Regions from separate parts of the Homo sapiens genome. Here region 2 is linked to region 1. The links come from fine-mapping of genetic effects on gene expression. Tissue or cell type: whole blood. Region 1 holds a variant in brackets; the other region holds the start of a gene. All regions are shown on one strand. Distances are from middle to middle.

The links. PIP is the estimated chance that this variant, and not a neighbour inherited with it, causes the effect.
Region 2: it holds the start of EEF2K, and the variant in region 1 is fine-mapped to the expression of EEF2K in whole blood (INTERVAL, PIP above 0.99).

Annotation. Positions count from the first base shown.
Region 1 is chr16:21,998,619-22,006,723 of GRCh38, forward strand. PDZD9 (PDZ domain containing 9) reads right to left here and starts at 2,498. Exons shown (of 4, transcript NM_001363519.1): 1 at 2,399-2,498. The coding sequence starts at 2,429. It also overlaps the pseudogene LOC100420536. RefSeq lists an enhancer at 2,644-2,693. The variant G/T (reference allele first, on the strand shown) is at 4,723.
Region 2 is chr16:22,203,016-22,211,120 of GRCh38, forward strand. EEF2K (eukaryotic elongation factor 2 kinase) reads left to right here and starts at 3,263. Exons shown (of 18, transcript NM_013302.5): 1 at 3,263-3,664. RefSeq lists silencers at 3,034-3,333, 3,494-3,763 and an enhancer at 6,925-7,425.

The DNA of each region.
Region 1 (8,105 bases):
GAGGCAGAGGTTGCAGTGAGCTGAGATGGCGCCATTGTACTCCAGCCTGGGTGACAGGGCGAGACTCTGTCTCAAAAACAAAAAAAAATTATCTGGGCATGTTGGTGCATGCCTGTAATCCCAGCTACAAGCCTGGGTGACAGAGCAAGACTCCATCTCAAAAAAAAAAAAAAAAAAAAAAAAAGAGAGAGAAAAAAACCTTGACAAAGTGAAGTTGGATGTAGATTTTCTTGGAGCAAGTAAATACATGCAATCTCCTGTCTCAAATGCTAGCAACATACCAGACCACTCTGCTTCATTTTGGAGAGAAGACTTCTCACACTATGGCAGCCATCCATGAGAGCTTCACAGGTTATCAGCCATATGAAGTCACTACTTTAAAGCACTTACAAAACCCTCTGAAAAAACTAGTTGAGAAAGAAGAAAAGAAGCTCACCCAGCAGGAAAGCACAGATGTAACAGTGCAGGAGCTGAGTCAATTAATTTCATTAGAGGATGAAAACCACGACAAGGAAAACACTGAAGATGGAAAAGGTATTTTATGTGTTTTAGGCAAAGGCTCTTCACACAGTGCATGCTCAGGATGAACTATTAGACATGAAACCTGAGGAAAGTGCTCGCTAGGGCCCAGTGGCAGGGACCCTGGAACCCGAAGGTACTGACAAAGATGATCCTACTGCTGTTGAAAGTGAGATCTTCAATGCTTCCTCCCTGGAAAAGGGTGAGCTCAGAAAAGAGTGAGCTGCTGTGTTTGGGGACAACCAGGTGGAGGAGGCAGCACTATGGTCCTCGGAGAGCCAGACCCCAAGCACCAGACTAAAATATGAAAGACTTACAGGTTTTGCTACAAGGCTAGTCAGACAGCAATGTCAACCTTCCCAAGGACAAGCAGTCCAAATGACAACAGCCCTGCAGTGAAAAAGCCTAAGGCTGTCTGGCACCTGCCTGCCTAGTTCAGCCTCTTTGCCAACCTCAAGTCTTATCAAATCCTGATGCTGTGCGGAAAAAAGCCATAAAGAACAAGAATTGCTCAGTGCAGGAGTCTGCATCCTTCAGTAAGCCCACCTGGGGGCTAGCAGAAGTATAAAGTGATTAGAGCCTGGGCAACATAGTGACACCTCATCTCTTCTATTTAGGCTGGGCATGGTGGCTCACACCTGTAATCCCAGCACTTTGGGAGGCCGAGGGTGGGCGGATCACTTGGGGTCAGGAGTTCGAGACCAGCCTGGCCAGCATGGTGAAACACCGTTGCTACTGAAAACACAAAAATCAGCCAGGCGTGGTGGTTCACGCCTGTAATCCAAGCTACTCTGGAGGCTGAGGGGCAAGAATCGCTTGAACCCGCCTGGAAGGCGGGGGTTGCAGTAAGCCAAGATCATGCCGCTGCACTCTAGCCTGGGTCACAGAGCAAGACTCTGTCTCAAAAAAAAAAAAAAAATTAGCTGAATGTGGTGGTGCATGCCTACAGTCCCAGCTATGGGAGGCTGATGCAGGAGGATTGCTTGAGCCCAAGAATTGGAGGCTGCAGTGAGCCAGGAGCATACCACTGCACTCCAGCCTGAGCGACAGAACAAGACTCTGTCTCTAAAAATAAAATACAGTGACCCATATGCTATTTTAAGATTTATGTGCCCTTTTAATAAAAATGAAAGGGCCAAAGTCCCTATTTACATTGGTATAATTTTTTAAAGGCTCCTTACTATGTGATTTCATTTTTATGATGTTCTCCATGGAAAAGGCAAAAAAAAAAAAACGCTGTAAAAAACAGATGGGGGTGTGAGGAGCTGCAGTGGGGTGGGGTTTGGCTGCAACTGGGCATTGCAAAGTAATTTTAGGGAGTGGTGGAACTGTTCCCTATCTTGATGGAGGGGGTGGTTCAACGTGGGTATAGCTTGTCAAAACGGTAGCTGTACTTTTAAAAGGGGGGATCTTACTGCATGGAAATTATACCTTGATAAAAATAACGATGGCCAAGGCGGGCGGATCACTTGAGGTCAGGAGTTTGAGACCAGCCTGGCCAACATGGTGAAATCCCATCTCTACTAAAAATAAAAAATTAGCTGGGCATGGTGGCAGGCACCTGTAATCCCAGCTACTCGGGAGGCTAAGGCAGAGGAATCACTTGAGCCTGGGAGGCAGAGGTTGCAGTGAGCTGAGATCGCGCCACTGCACTCCAGCCTGGGGGACAAAGCAAGACTCCTTCTCAAATGATGATGATGATGATGATGATGATGATGATGATGATGATGATGATGATAATGATGATGATGATAACAACAACGATGGAGAGAGGTTATCTCCCAGGCCAAGAGTGCACCGTTGCCATTTTACAGAGGAGGAACATTGACGAAGGCTTGGTCCCCAGGGCTTCTTCACCCGCTTCCTTCTCCCCAGTTACCTTTTTTGTTTTTGTGGGAGGCCTTCTGCATGGTCCCGGGAGGTCAGGCAGCCCGGGAGGGCCTCCCGGAGCAGAGGCTGGAGTCAGTCCCAATGCCAACAGTTTCGAACCTTGCCCGCGGGCACTGCCCTCGGGATGGCCGCCAGGGGGCGCTGCGCCGCCACTGCCCAGAAATTGGGCGGCAGTGAGGTCGCCGCAAGGCTTCCCGTGGACCCTGCAAAACGTGGCGTGGGCATTGCACACCATTGTACTGTATGGAAACTTCTGCAGAGGTTAGCACCGTGCCTGACCCACGGTGGTTTCTTCATTCCTTCTTTTCTTTTTCTTTTTTTAAGAGACGGGCAGGGGGTGGGGGTCTCACTATGTTGCTCAGGCTCAACACAACTGTTGCACTATGGGCTCAAGCGATCTGCCCGCCTCAGCCTCCCAAAGTGCTGGGATTACAGGCATGAGCCACCGCGCTTGGCTTCTTCATTCATTCTTGGTGAACCTAAGAAATAGGGAGGGGGAGAAGGCACAGAGGAGGGTGTCTCAAAGATGTGAGGTGGTCTGCAGAGGAAGATCACAGCCAGAAGATCACAGGAGATCACAGAATACCTAGAAGATCAGAGAATCCCCCGCTGCACTTCTAATAATGGTATTTTAAAAAAATTGTTACATCAGTAGCTCCAATGCTTTGGAACTGCACTTTTTTTCATGAATGTTTTGAATAAGAAAAGGCCCCAGGGTGGCCTAAAAAAAAATGAGTCACTATTAGGAGAGGCACTATTAATGCTTCCTTCTTTTTTCCAAGATAATTCTTCCTCCCACACACATTCACTCATACAACAAGTATTTACAGGGAGCTGTTCTGTCATTTACTGATACTGGGGACACAACAGTAAGCAAGACAAACACAGAAACACAGGCTCTATCCTCTTGAAACCTGTACTTAAAAAACAGATGAAGTGGACAATTTTAGGAAAATATAAATTATTAAAAATAAATTCTAGGCCAGGTGTGGTGTCTAACACCTGTAATCCTAGGTACTCAGGAGACTGAGGCAGGAGGACTGCTTGAGCCCAGGAGTTTGAGATCAGCCTGGGCAACATAGTGAGACCCTTTCTCTATAAAAAAAATTTAAAAATTAGCTGGGCATGGTGGTGCACATCTGTAGTCCTAGCTACTCAGGAGGCTGAGATGGGAGGATCACTTGAGCCCAGGATTCAAGGCTGCAGTGAGCTATGATTGAGTCACCACCTTCCAGCCTGGGTGATGGAGCAAGATCCTGTCTCAAAAAATAAAAATGAATAAATGAGTTAGTAAATTCTAGAAGAAAGAGAAAACCTAATGAGGTAGGCCCTGGTGTTATCCCCGGTCTGATGAAACTGAGAGGCTAAGCACCTTGCCCCATCCCTTCAACAAACAGTCATTAACCACCTATTAGGTGTCAGGCACTGTGCAAAGATTTCCATGGTAGATCTGGTTATGTCCAAGCTTATTCTGTTGTTTCTGTGGCTCTACACAGACAATAAGCCAGGGCAGATTCCTCTTTAGGTTCCTTTTTTTTTTTTTTTTTTTTGAGATGGGGTCTCATTCTGTCACCCAGGCTGGAGTGCAGTGACAAAATCTCAGCTCACTGCAACCTCCGCCTTCCAGGCCCAAGCGATCCTTCCACCTCAGCCACCAGAGTAGCTGGGACCACAAGCCTGTGTCACCACGCCCAGCTAATTTTTGTATTTTTAGTAGAGACAGGGTTTTGCCATGTTGGCCAGACTGGTCTCCAACTCCTGAGCTCAGGGTGATCCACCCGCCTTGGCCTCCCAAAGTGCTGGGATTACAGGCGTGAGCGCCAGGACAGATTTCTCATTAGATAAAACCTGTGTCGTAGAGACCAGTACAAAGGGCTATTCTCCACCTCAAGTCTCCTGTGGGTGACTTCTTGTGACAGGTCACCTTTCCTCTTCCAAACAGTCTGGCAGGGGTCTACATAGATACCAACTTAATTCTATCATAAAATACATCTTTTTCCTCCATCTTCCTACCAGCAGGGGAAGGGTAAGAGTTTGTGGGAATAGAGCCCATCAGCATATATGGTTCTGTGATGGAGCATATCAGTGCCTGGCCTCCCCTTAGTCTTCCCTCCACCCCAGGCTAAAAAGTGTCTTTAAAGCGGAGGTCTCTACACTCCACCAAGCCAAGTAAGCCAAGGTCACACTGATTGGTGGAACTGCAGGATACAAACTGTCCTGGGTGCTGTGCTGCCCAGATCCCCCTTCAGGGCTGAAAGACTTACACTTCCCACCCTCACTACTACTACTGGCTGGAAAGAACGCCTTGCCCAA[G/T]ATCTCACCTTCCTAGATTAACTAGCATCTGGTGACTGGTCAATGCAGGGCCATCCCAGGTTCAGAACTCCCCACGTGGTCCACTGCAGCCTTACTTTTCCCTCTGCCCTGTCCTGCTTCATTCCTTTTTTTTTTTTTTTTTTTTCAGAGAGAGTCTCACTCTGTTGCCTAGGATGGAGTGCAGTGGAGTGATCTCGGCTTACTGCAACCTCCACTGCCCAGGTTCAAGCAATTCTCGTGCCTCAGCCTCCTGAGTAGCTGGGATTACAGGCACCCACCACCATGCCCAGCTAATTTTTGTATTTTTAGTACAGACAGGGGTTTCACCATGTTGACCAGGCTGGTCTCAAACTCCTGACCTCAGGTAATCTGCCCGCCTCAGCCTCCCAAAGTGCTGGGATTACAGGCATGAGCCACCACGCCCGGACCCTGCTTTATTCCTTCTTCCAAAGAGTAGATGCTAGGATGGATCACCTAATACCCAGGTAATAATGAGGTGCCCATCCCTGGTACAGGAGGAGCATAGCTAGCCTCTGGCAGAGGGAAACTCTAAGATGGCTAATTTTTTACAGGCAGTAAATGGGATGGTATACCAGGGGGAGAAAGCAGACAAGAGTATTCAATTACCGGGAAGGAATCAGGCTGAGACTTCACATCAGGGCAGGGAGGAACATTGGGCACCCACGTGATCTATTTAGGTGTCTCTTAGTACTCCTTTGCCCTATTTGGACAGTAAATGGACAAATGCAGCAACCACTGCCTGAGAAGTGCACAGCAACTAGGTGCTCAGGCTCTCTAAGGATGGAGGTCTAGACCACCCCATCACGCAGGCCACCTAGATCATCTGAGGTGCTGGCAGAAGGGAAGAGGTTTCTAGGATGGATAGAAGAGGGGACTGAAGGGTATGTTCGTTATGCCTCTAGATGAGCTGTAGCGGCGGCAGGAGCTGTAGTTCCCACTAACCCTCCTCTATATGTTTCCCACAGGAAAAGATTCCCCAGGGTCCTGAAAGTGCTGCTCTCCAAACTTAAGTAGCAAATGAGAGGCACAGCACCATGTGGGCACTATTGCAAATGCTGCACTACACTGCCTCGGTCAGGACTGAAGGACTATTCCCCGCCTACCGGGTGGGTGGTAGGTTGACAGATCTCAGCTGTCAGCCCTCTTGAGGAATTGTCTTTGTCTAAAGAGAGCTGCCCTCCAAGCTCCATGGCAGGTCAGTGCAGGGATGAAAAGACTTGGCCCATTTACTCCAACTCAGGCCAACTCAGCAGCTATCCTAGTTTCAGAACTCCCCTGGGGGTCTGCCAAAGCCTCCCATGACTGCAGCACAGACTGACTTCTCCCTCTTCCCACCCCTGCTTCCCTTTCCCCATAGGACTTGATTCTCAAAGGCTCTCTAATAAACTTTCTGCACTAATCAATAATCGCATTTCTGAGTCAGCTCAAAGGGAACCAATCCATGAAACAAACTGAGATTTGAGCCCGGGCGCAAGCTGCTAACTCTGGATTTAGTTTCTTGTGTCTTCTCTAACCCCAGAAACCCCAGGTACATGTGTGGTGCGTCCACCATGCTCTTGGCCCACGAAACCTAACCCCTAGGGAGACAGTGTGTTTATTGTCAGGCTGAAGATACTCCTTAAAGAGAAGAGTGATCACACAGTCCCTTCCACAGCTTTGCCCGTGGTCCCATCTGGATTCAGCCTCTTCTGGCCAAGGCCTGCCATCCATCACAATAGAGCATGCCATGTTCATGGCCCTTTAACAGCTGCAGAATGGCTGTTTATGACTTCAGGCTGCACAGCATATCTCCCTCCTGGAAGCCTTCTATGTTCTTCTGGGTCCCCAAGGCTTTCTGCCATAAGGAGTCTTGTGGCTCATTTCTGAAAAGTCCCAGCTGCTCTGCTTAGGGGTGGGTGAGAGGATGGGACGCTTCTGTCACCGAGGCCAGGAGTCTTGTTAGGCCAGATGGGGGTAAAAGGCCCAGAGAGGTGACATGGCTTTCCCAAGGTCAAGTCAGGAGCAGGGCAGGAACTAGAACATAGTTCTGTATTCTCTCTGCTTCACTCCATCACCTCTCCCAAACCCTTAGGGTTTGCCTCTGCTAAAATCTAGACTGAGATACAGAGAGAAGGGGACTGATCTGTCCTGCAGACCTCAGAGACTGGGGACTCTGAAACACCAGCCAGGCACAGTGGTGTGGGCCTGTAGTCCCAGCTACTTGGGAGGCTGAGGTGGGAGGATCACTTAAGGCCAGAAGTTGAAATCCAGCGTGGACAACATAGTGAGACCCTATCTCTGACAAAAAAAAAAAAAAAAGGAAAGAAAGAAAAGAAAAGAGCTATAGGGATAAAAAGAGGGATTAATGGGAAATCTGTAAACAGTTTGGCCCCTGCCAACCCCACCTCCCATTCTGGATGGTAGGAAGGTTTGGGATAGGTGACTATTCTCTGTACTGATGTGCAGCCATTAGTATGATAAAAATGTTTTAAATTCTTTTAACTCAATACTGGTTGTTCTTGTGCTTTAATCTTAGACCCAGAACCATTTGTAAAGGGTAAAAGGAAGAACTGTATTATTTATTTATTTTATTTATTAGAGACAGGGGTCTCACTGTGTTGTCCAGGCTGGTCTTGAACTGCTGGACTCAAGTGATCCTCCCACCTCAGCTTCTGGAGTAGCTGGGATTATAGGTGCAAACCACCACGCTTGGCTACTTGTATTTATTGTAAACACAAGAACCCAATCATCATCATTCTATTCAGCTGGAGTTAGAATATGTGCAAACTGTTCAAACATTCAGCCCTAGGATTCTTCTAAGCTGGCCAGTAGAGAACATCAGTGGATATTATCTGGGAATTTAGTCCTGTATAGTTACAGTTTCTTCTATCACTGGGCAATAGAAAACCCCAACAAGAAGCCAAATATGACTCAATTAAATTTCTCCAGTACTTATTTAAAAAAAGAAGAAAAGAAAAAAGAAACTGAAGACTATTGCAGTAATGTGATATGCATTATATCTGGATCCTTGGAGTATATGAATTATCTTGTGTCAATTTCTGTGGCAGAGGAAAAATAAATTGTATAATAACAAAAAAAAAAAACCTTTCCCCCAAGAGACCAATGTTTGGACAGAAAAGTCAATATAGACCAGCAATCAAACCCTTCCTTCTCCCAGCTATGTAGTGACACTGATACTCTGTTGCACATTTCTGCAAGGCTGTTGGATTTGGTGGAATTTGAAACCTCCTGAATTTTGTGGACATGTAAGCATTCCAAAAATAGAGACAGATGTCACTCTTCTAGGTCCTTCTAGAGACGACCTATGTGGCATTTAAGGAGAAAATGAGTGTTTCATCTCCATCTGCTGCACGGAGTACCAT
Region 2 (8,105 bases), 200 kb after region 1:
ATAAGCCACCGCCTGGCCTACTGCATTTTAATTATGCATTCATCAGTCATTTGGATTGTTTTCACCTTTTGCCTATTATGAATAATATTCCCATGAACATTTTGTATAAGTTTTTGTGTGGACATATGTTTTCATTTCTGCTAGGATTTGAATTGCTGGGTTATACGGTAACTTCATGTTTAATTTTTTTTAAGAATTGCCAAACTGCTTTCCATTCCTACCAGCAGTGTATGAGGGTTCTAGTTTCTCCACATCCTTGCCAACACTTGCTATTATCTGAGATTTTGATTATAGTCATGCTAGTGGGTAGTGGGTGTGTTTTGACTTGCTTTTTTTGGTCACCCACGCTGGAGTGCAGTGGTGCAATCATAGCTCACGGCAGCCTCCAACTCCTGGGCTCAAGCTATCCTCCCACCTCAGCCTGTCGAGTAGCTGGGACTACAGGCACACATCACCGAGCCTGGCTAATTTTTCTATTTTGTTTTTTTGTAGAGATGAGGGTCTTGTTATGTTGCCTTTGCTGATCTGGAGCTCTTGGGCTCACACCATCATCCCACCTTGGCCTCCCAAAGTGCTAGGATTACAGGCATGAGCCACCATGCCTGGCCTTGCATTTTCTTAGTGGCTAATGACGTTGAGCACCTTTTCATGTCCTTATTGGCCATTTGTATATCTTCTTTGGAGAAATGTCTATTCCAATCTTTGGCCCATGTTTAAATTGGAGTATTTATCTTTTATTATTGAGTTGTAACAATTCTTTATATATTCTAGCTGCAAATCCCTTATCAGATATGATTTGCAAATATTTTTTCCCCATTCTCTGATTGTCTTTTCACTTTCTTTTTTGTTTGTGGTTTGTTTTTGTTATTGTATTTTGAGAGAAGGTCTTACTCTGTCCCTCAGGCTAGAGTGTAGTGGCGGGATCTTGGCTCACTGCAAACTCTGCCTCCCAGGTCCAAGTGTTCTTCCCACCTCAGCCTCCTGAGTAGCTGGGACCATAGATGCAAGCCACCACATCTGGCTAATTTTTGTATTTTTTTATAAAGATGAGGTTTCGCTATGTTGCCCAGGCTGGTCTCAAATTCCTGAGCTCCAGCAATCTGCCTGCCTCCCAAAGTATTGTGATCACAGGCATGAGCCACTGAGCCTGGCCTTTTTCATTTATTTATTTAATTTTTACAGACAGGGTCTCACTCTGTTGCCCAGGCTGAAGTGCACTGCATGATCATAGCTCACTGCAGTTTCAAACTGCTGGGCCCAAGGGATCCTCCTGCCTCAGCCTCCTGAGTATCTGAGACTACAGGCACACACCACCATACCTGGGTTTTTTTTTTTTTTAATGTTTTATTTTAGAGACAGGGGTCTTGCTATGTTGCCCAGGATGGTTTTGAACTCCTGGCCCCATTGATCCTCCTGCCTTGGCCTCCCAAAGCTCTGACATTACATGTGTGAGCCACCTTGCCCGGCCTTGAGTAATTTTATTTTACCGCAGTAGACATCTCCTTGAAGGCAAATGTTTCCCCCAATTCCTAGCACCATATTTGGCACACAATAGGAGCTTAATAAAATTTGCCATAAGAATTAATGCTCAGAAACTCTACTATTACATCCTATCTGCTCAACTCCCTGGAAAAGAGACATTCTCTTTTTATGGTTACTATAAAAGGCCCAGATTAGTATTTCACTGGCCTAACTTGGATCACATGCTCATCCCTGAACCAATCAATGAGGCTGAAGGGATGAAATATGCTAATTGGCCAGGTCTGGTCATGTGTCCATTTTTGGAGCCAGGGGAGTGGGGAGGGCTATTTTCCTGAACTGAAATAGGGTGAACTGGTTCCCTGAAGACTAACCAAGACGCTAATGCAAAGAAGGACACTCCTGCTGGGCAGACAAAAATGACAGAGGCTCAGAGAAGTAAAATAACTTGCCCAAGGGCCATAGAGCTTTAAGCAGTAGCGTCTTTTTTTTTTTTCCAATCTTGCTTTGGGCTTGGACAGACTAGTTCAGCATCTTTGATCTTCCCTTCCTGCCTGACGGCCCCAGGGTCAGAATTCCAGGTGCAATTTTGTCTTGCCAAAAGCTGGAGTTTACTCTCTTTGGGGTTTATAAATAAGGAAAAAAGTTCTTTGGAGAGCCTGAACTTTGAAATCAGAGAAGTCTGGATTTACTGCTGGCTCTGCCTTTTCTAGCTGCCTCACCTGGGGCATGTCATTATCTCTATAAGCCTCAGTTTTGTTCTTTTTTCTTTTTTATTTTTTTGTTTTTGTTTTTTTGCGACGGAGTCTCATTCCTTCACCCAGGCTGGAGTGTAGTGGCGCGATCTCGGCTCACTGCAACCTCTGCCTCCAGGGTTCAAGCGATTCTCGTGCCTCAGCCTCCAGAGTAGCTGGGACTACAGGCGCGCCCGGCTGCTTTTTTGTATTTTTACTAAAGACAGGGTTTTACCGTTTTGGCCAGGCTGGTCTCGAACTCCTGACCTCAGGTGATCTGCCGGCCTCGGCCTCCCAAAGTGCTGGGAAGATGGAATGAGAGAAATCCCTCAAAACATGTCATTGTTACTACTTTTCTATCTAGAATGTGTGAAATTTCTAAAATTTCACTAACAAAGTATCTGGAAGGACCTAATATTAAAGTGTTCACAGTAGCTATTAGTTTTAATTCGTTTTCTTTTTTATACCTTAGCCACTCTACCACTCATGCCACAGGTATTTATTAAGCATCTACTGTGTGCCACCCAGGCCCTGTGTCAAGAGTTAGGAATAACTAAAGGAGATACTAATTTTAAAACTACACAAATAATTGCAATCGTCATACGTGCCTGTTTTTACAAAGCAGAAATCAGGAAAAACAAAGTATTTCCGATAAAAAATATTTTAAGGTTATGGATAGAGATACATACAAACAAGCGATGGGCTTGGATCACTAATGATTTTGGAAAGGACAGGAATACAGGAACTAAGCGAGAAGCAGGCGAGAATGGCGAGGCGCGGCGGGAGAGGACGGAAGTTGGTCACTCCCTCGAATTGCCCCCTCGCTGCCGGATGCTAGGCCAGCCTTGAGCAGGAGAACCGGACACTGTGTACTCAGCAGGGGGAGCCAAGACTTAGCGCTAACCATTGCACCTGGGGCTGGGAGCCAGCGCCGGAGCCAGGAGGCCCGCTAGGCGGCTGCAGGCGCTGTGATGGCCACCTGGGGGCGGCCACGTGAGCGCCACGCCGTGCGCCCGCCAGGCCAGCCCCGCCCCTGCCCGCCCGCTTCTGCTCAACCTAGACCAGCCCCAGCTTCAGCCTCAGCTCCCCTCCTTCCTGGATCGAGCGCCCGCACTCCCGGCCCTGCAGCCACCCGAGTCCCGCTCGCTGTCGCCTGCACGCGAGTCCCCCCTGGCACGCGCTCCCACATCCCGGGATCGTCCCAACGGCCCCTGCGCCCTTCCTGGGATCACTCCGACTGCCCCGCGCGCCCTGGGATCGGTCCATCTACCCCGCGTGGCCCCAGCTGCTTGCCCGGAGCGCCAGCTAGCGCTCCCCGCTCTCCGCTCCCCGGCACTCTCGGGGGGCCCGCCCGCCCTGCACCCTGGAGCTCCGGGCCGCGAGCCTCTGCCAACTCCTCTGGACCCTCGCGGCCGTGGGCAGCGGCTGCCGCGCCTGTCTGCCCGAGGGAGGTAGGTGTGGACCGCGGCCGGCAAGGCTGTGGGGGGCTGGGAGCCCGCGCTGCAGGCCTGTGCGCCCGGGTGCAGCTGGCGTCTGGAGCGTGCTGGGTCTGGGCTTGGGAATGGGGCCGGAGAAGGCATGGAAGGAGAGTGTGGGGGCGCTTCTCCTCTGGTTGTTAAACTCTCTGGGGCTAAGTGCTTGCTTTGGAGAAATGGGGAAGTTGTGCGGATTAAAGGCGATGTGGATATGGAAAGCAATTGGCAAGCAATGGGCGGTGATCTGGCTGCAAGTGACAGAGAGTTTGGGGGCCTCCCCCCTCGGGGCCCCTAGAGTGTGGGCGCATCGCTGCCTTCCTGTCCCCTGCAGGGCTCAGAGCCGCATCCCCCACCTTTCCCCTGAACTAGAGGCCTGCGTCAGCCCGAATTCCCGGAACCTCCAGGACTGTATAGACGCGCCCTTGCTGCATTGTTGGCTGCGGGAGTTTGTTGGCAGGCGCTGCTGACATGTGTGCCAAGGGGCTGGGCATTAATAAGCCGGTGGCCGCGCGGGGGTGGGGGCCTCCCGGGTAAGCCCCGGCCTAGATCCTTTTGCGCGCGCCTGGGGGATTTCGGGGAACCAGCCCAGCTGCGCCCTGAGTGTGACAGATGGGCCGCATGGGGAAGTGAGATCTGCCCAGGGGGACGGTCCCAGGGAGCCCGACCTCTGGGACCTCGGTGGTGGGTGCTTCTTCAGCCAGGAAAGCAGGAAACACTAGGGCTGGAGTCCTGGGTTGGAATTCTAGCTCATTTATGCTCTCTGGCCCTCGGTTTTCTCATCGGTAAAATGGGTACAGTATTAGTATCTACCACTTAGTATCCTTGGAAAGAGTAGATGAGTATGTATATGTCAGGTGCTTGGAACAGTGCCTGGCACACAGTGTCATAGTCTATGGCCCCGGGAGACATCTGATGGCCAAGAGCCCTGTGGTTGAGGGCCCTGGACAGGCTGTGAAGTCACAGCGAATTGAGTCACGTAGTCTATCCTAATGTTTTTAGCGAGGAGGAAACCGAGGGTCAGAGTGATCCCCAGGCCCACAGAAGCTCCCTAAGAGGAAGCCAGTCACATAAACAGATTCTAAAAAGCGAGATGGAGTAAATGGGAATACAGAGCAAGCAGGTGGGAGCTGAGAATGCCCACTGTGTGTGTAAAGGGGAGAGGGTTATGGGGGAAGGCTTCCTGTAGCAAGTGCTGTTTAAGCTGAGCTGGGGAAGAGGCAGGTGGAAGGAGGTAGAGTTCAGAGATGGCGTATGCAGGTGTCTTCCTTCTGTGTGGCCTCCACAGCACCCGATGTTCATTCCTTTGTTCAGCTATTAATTCAACAACTACAGTAAAACCTCTCAAGGACATGAATTTCAGTGTAACATGGCTGGGATTGGCGTCCGCCCTCCTCTCAGCCCCCATTCTCAAAGAAGGGGGTGGGGTCCGAAGTTCTTATCCTCTGCAGGGAATGGGGAGGCCAGAAGACAGAACTGAAGTGGTCACAGTTTACACATAATCATCGGTGTACATTCCAAGAGCTACCGGTGTTTTGGGCCAGGGGCGTGGTGGCTCAGGCCTTTAATCTCAGTACTTTGGGAGACTGAGGAAGGTGGATCACTTGAGGTCAGGAGTTTGAGACCAGCCTGGCCAACATAGGGAGCCCCCATCTCTACTAAAAATACAAAAATTAGCTGGGCATGTTGGCATGAGCCTGTAATCCCAGCTACTCGGGAGGCTGAGGCAGGAGAATCGAGAATCGTTTGAACCCAGGAGGTATAGTTTGCAGGGAGCTGAGATTGCACCACTGCACTCTAGACTGGGCAACAAAGCGAGACTCTGTCTCAAAAAATAAAAAAGATCCACCAATTTGTTTTTCTTGTGCTTTTTGTAACTGTACAGTACTTTTTGGCTGATTACGGATATATCACTGGCTGGGTGTGGTAGCTCACACCTGTAATCCCAGCCACTTTGGGGGTGCTGAGGCGGGAGGATTGCTTGACCCCAGGAGTTCAAGACCAGCCTGGCTGACGGGGTGAAACCCGGTCTCTATTTAAAAAAAAAAAAATCTCTGATTTGCTTTTAAAACATTTTACTGTATTATGTGGCAGAGAAAGCTATGGGTCACCAGTACCCATGTTCTCGTCCTCCTGGGGTGCTCCCTGGATGAATTTTCCTAGGCTTCCTTACCATTCGGTAGGGCCACACGGCTGAGTTTTGGCTGATGAAATGTGAGTGTGTCCATTTCAAGCCTCGACCCTAAAAACCTCTCACTCTTTCCTTATTTGTTGGACAAGTCAAGGCGACTTTGAAGGCCTAGAGGAGGGCAGAGCCACAAGCCAGAGGGAGTGTTTGTTGTTTTTGAGATGGAGTCTTGCTCTGTTGCCCAGGCTGGAGTGCAGTAGTGTGATCTCAGCTCACTGCAACCTCTGCCTCCCAGATTCAAGTGATTTTCCTGCCTCAGCCTCTTGAGTATGAGCTGGGACTACAGGCACATGCCACCGTGCCCAGCTAATTTTTGTATTTTTAGTAGAGATGGGATTTCACTGTGTTGGCCAGGCTGGTCTCAAACTCCTGACCTCAAGTGATCCACCCGCCTCCCAAAGTGCTGGGATTACAGGCATGAGCCACCATGCCCACCCGGGAAGGATGTCTTTAGGGTTGTTATCTTGCTGTGGGGAGAGTCCCCAAAGCAGTCTTGTCCAGTTTTTGGCAGGGTTGTCGTCTGGTTGCCGGGACTCTGGGAGCTGTGTGAAGAAAGCCAAGGGTGAACAGCAGAAGCTTGGACTTGTTCAAGCTCGTTCTCCGGGATTCACTATTTCTGGTCCAGTTCTTACACCTGAAGCAGAACAACTGAATGATCAGGGCTATAGACAAAGTAATAGCGGCAGGTTGAACTAATTTAAAAGAATCAGTGTTTTTTGTTGAGGGAGATTGGTTCTGCTGACCTGAAAGCTGCAGGTTATTACCCTGATGAACTGAGAAGGCTCCTAGAAGGTGGTTAGAGCGATGACCTTGTCTCCACCTGGGATGAAAGCGGCTTGGGCCTTAAAGTGTTGCTGGATCAAATTCTTGCAGCCAAGGCTGATGAGCACAAGCAAGGAGGCTTCTTTTTTGTTGTTGTTTTGAGACAGGGTCTTGCTCTGTCACCCAGGCTGCGGTGCAGTGGCACAGTCACAGCTCACTGCAGCCTGGAACTCCTCGGCTCAAGTGATCCTCCTGCCTCAGCCTCCCAAGTAGCTGGGACTACAGACATGAGCTACCACCATGGCTGGCTAACTTTTAATTTTAGTGTAGAGATGGGGTCTCACTCTGTTGCCCAGGCTGGGCTTGAACTCTGGGCTCAAGCGATTCTTCTGTCTGGGCCTCCCAAAGTGTTAGGATCACAGGCATGAGCCGTGCCCAACCATATAAGAAGGCTTCAGACAAAGGAAGGAGTGAGTCACTAACACGCTGATGATAAAGCAGAAAATAACAGTGCTCCCCACAACCCCCAAAGTCCCAGGGCTGTGGGACTCCTAGAGAAGCGTCTCAAATGGCTCCAGAGTCAGAAGGTGGATGGCGTTCTGTTCTCCAGCTGTGAAGCTTTCGAGCTCTAGCAAGGACTAGCAAGCCAGAGGAAGCACCCGGAAGTAGGTGGCTAAACTGCGGAAAATTGCCCTAGGCCAGCGTTTCTCTAACTTCAGTGCACATCAGCATCCCCAGCAGGACTTGCTTACACTTTGATTGCTGGACCCATCCCCAGAGTTTAATTTAGTAGGTCTGTAGTGAGGCTTGAGAATTTGCATTACCAGCAAGTTGCCAGGTGAGGCTGCTGCAGTGGCTGCTGCGGCAGCTGGTCCCATACTTTTAGAAGCGCTGGTTAAGGAAGTGATGACTGCATTGAAAGCTCTGGATTCAGCCCGCACCAGCTTCAAACCCAACTCTAGTCATGTGATTTGGGATAAGTCACATAACCTCTCTGTTCCTTAGTTTTCTCATCTGTAGAATGAAGCTAAGAGCGACTAACTCCTGGGGTTCAGGGGAGGCTTCATGAAGGAGGTGATATCTAAGCTGAGACCTGAGGGATGAGCAGTCAAGTTGGCCAGGGGATGAGTAGGGAGGACAGGCTGGGGTGTGTACCAGACAGAGGGCATAGCATGTTCAGAGCCCGAGGAGGAAGGAGTGCCTGCCTTCTAGGGAGCTGGGAGGAGTTATGTAGCAAGTGCTTTGTAAGTGATACTGAAATGCTACCAATCTGTTCTGGGCAGGATCACAGTGGAGAGGAAGCCAACCAGGGTATGGAAAATGGGCTGCTGGACGGGCTCAGAAATGGTACAAGTTATTTGTGCTCTTTCATTGGCCAGAATGCAGTCACATGACCTTACCTAGCTGCAAGGGATGCTGGGAAATGTCCGTGGCCAGGCAGGGGAGAAAGGATTCCTGGAGGAAAGCCAG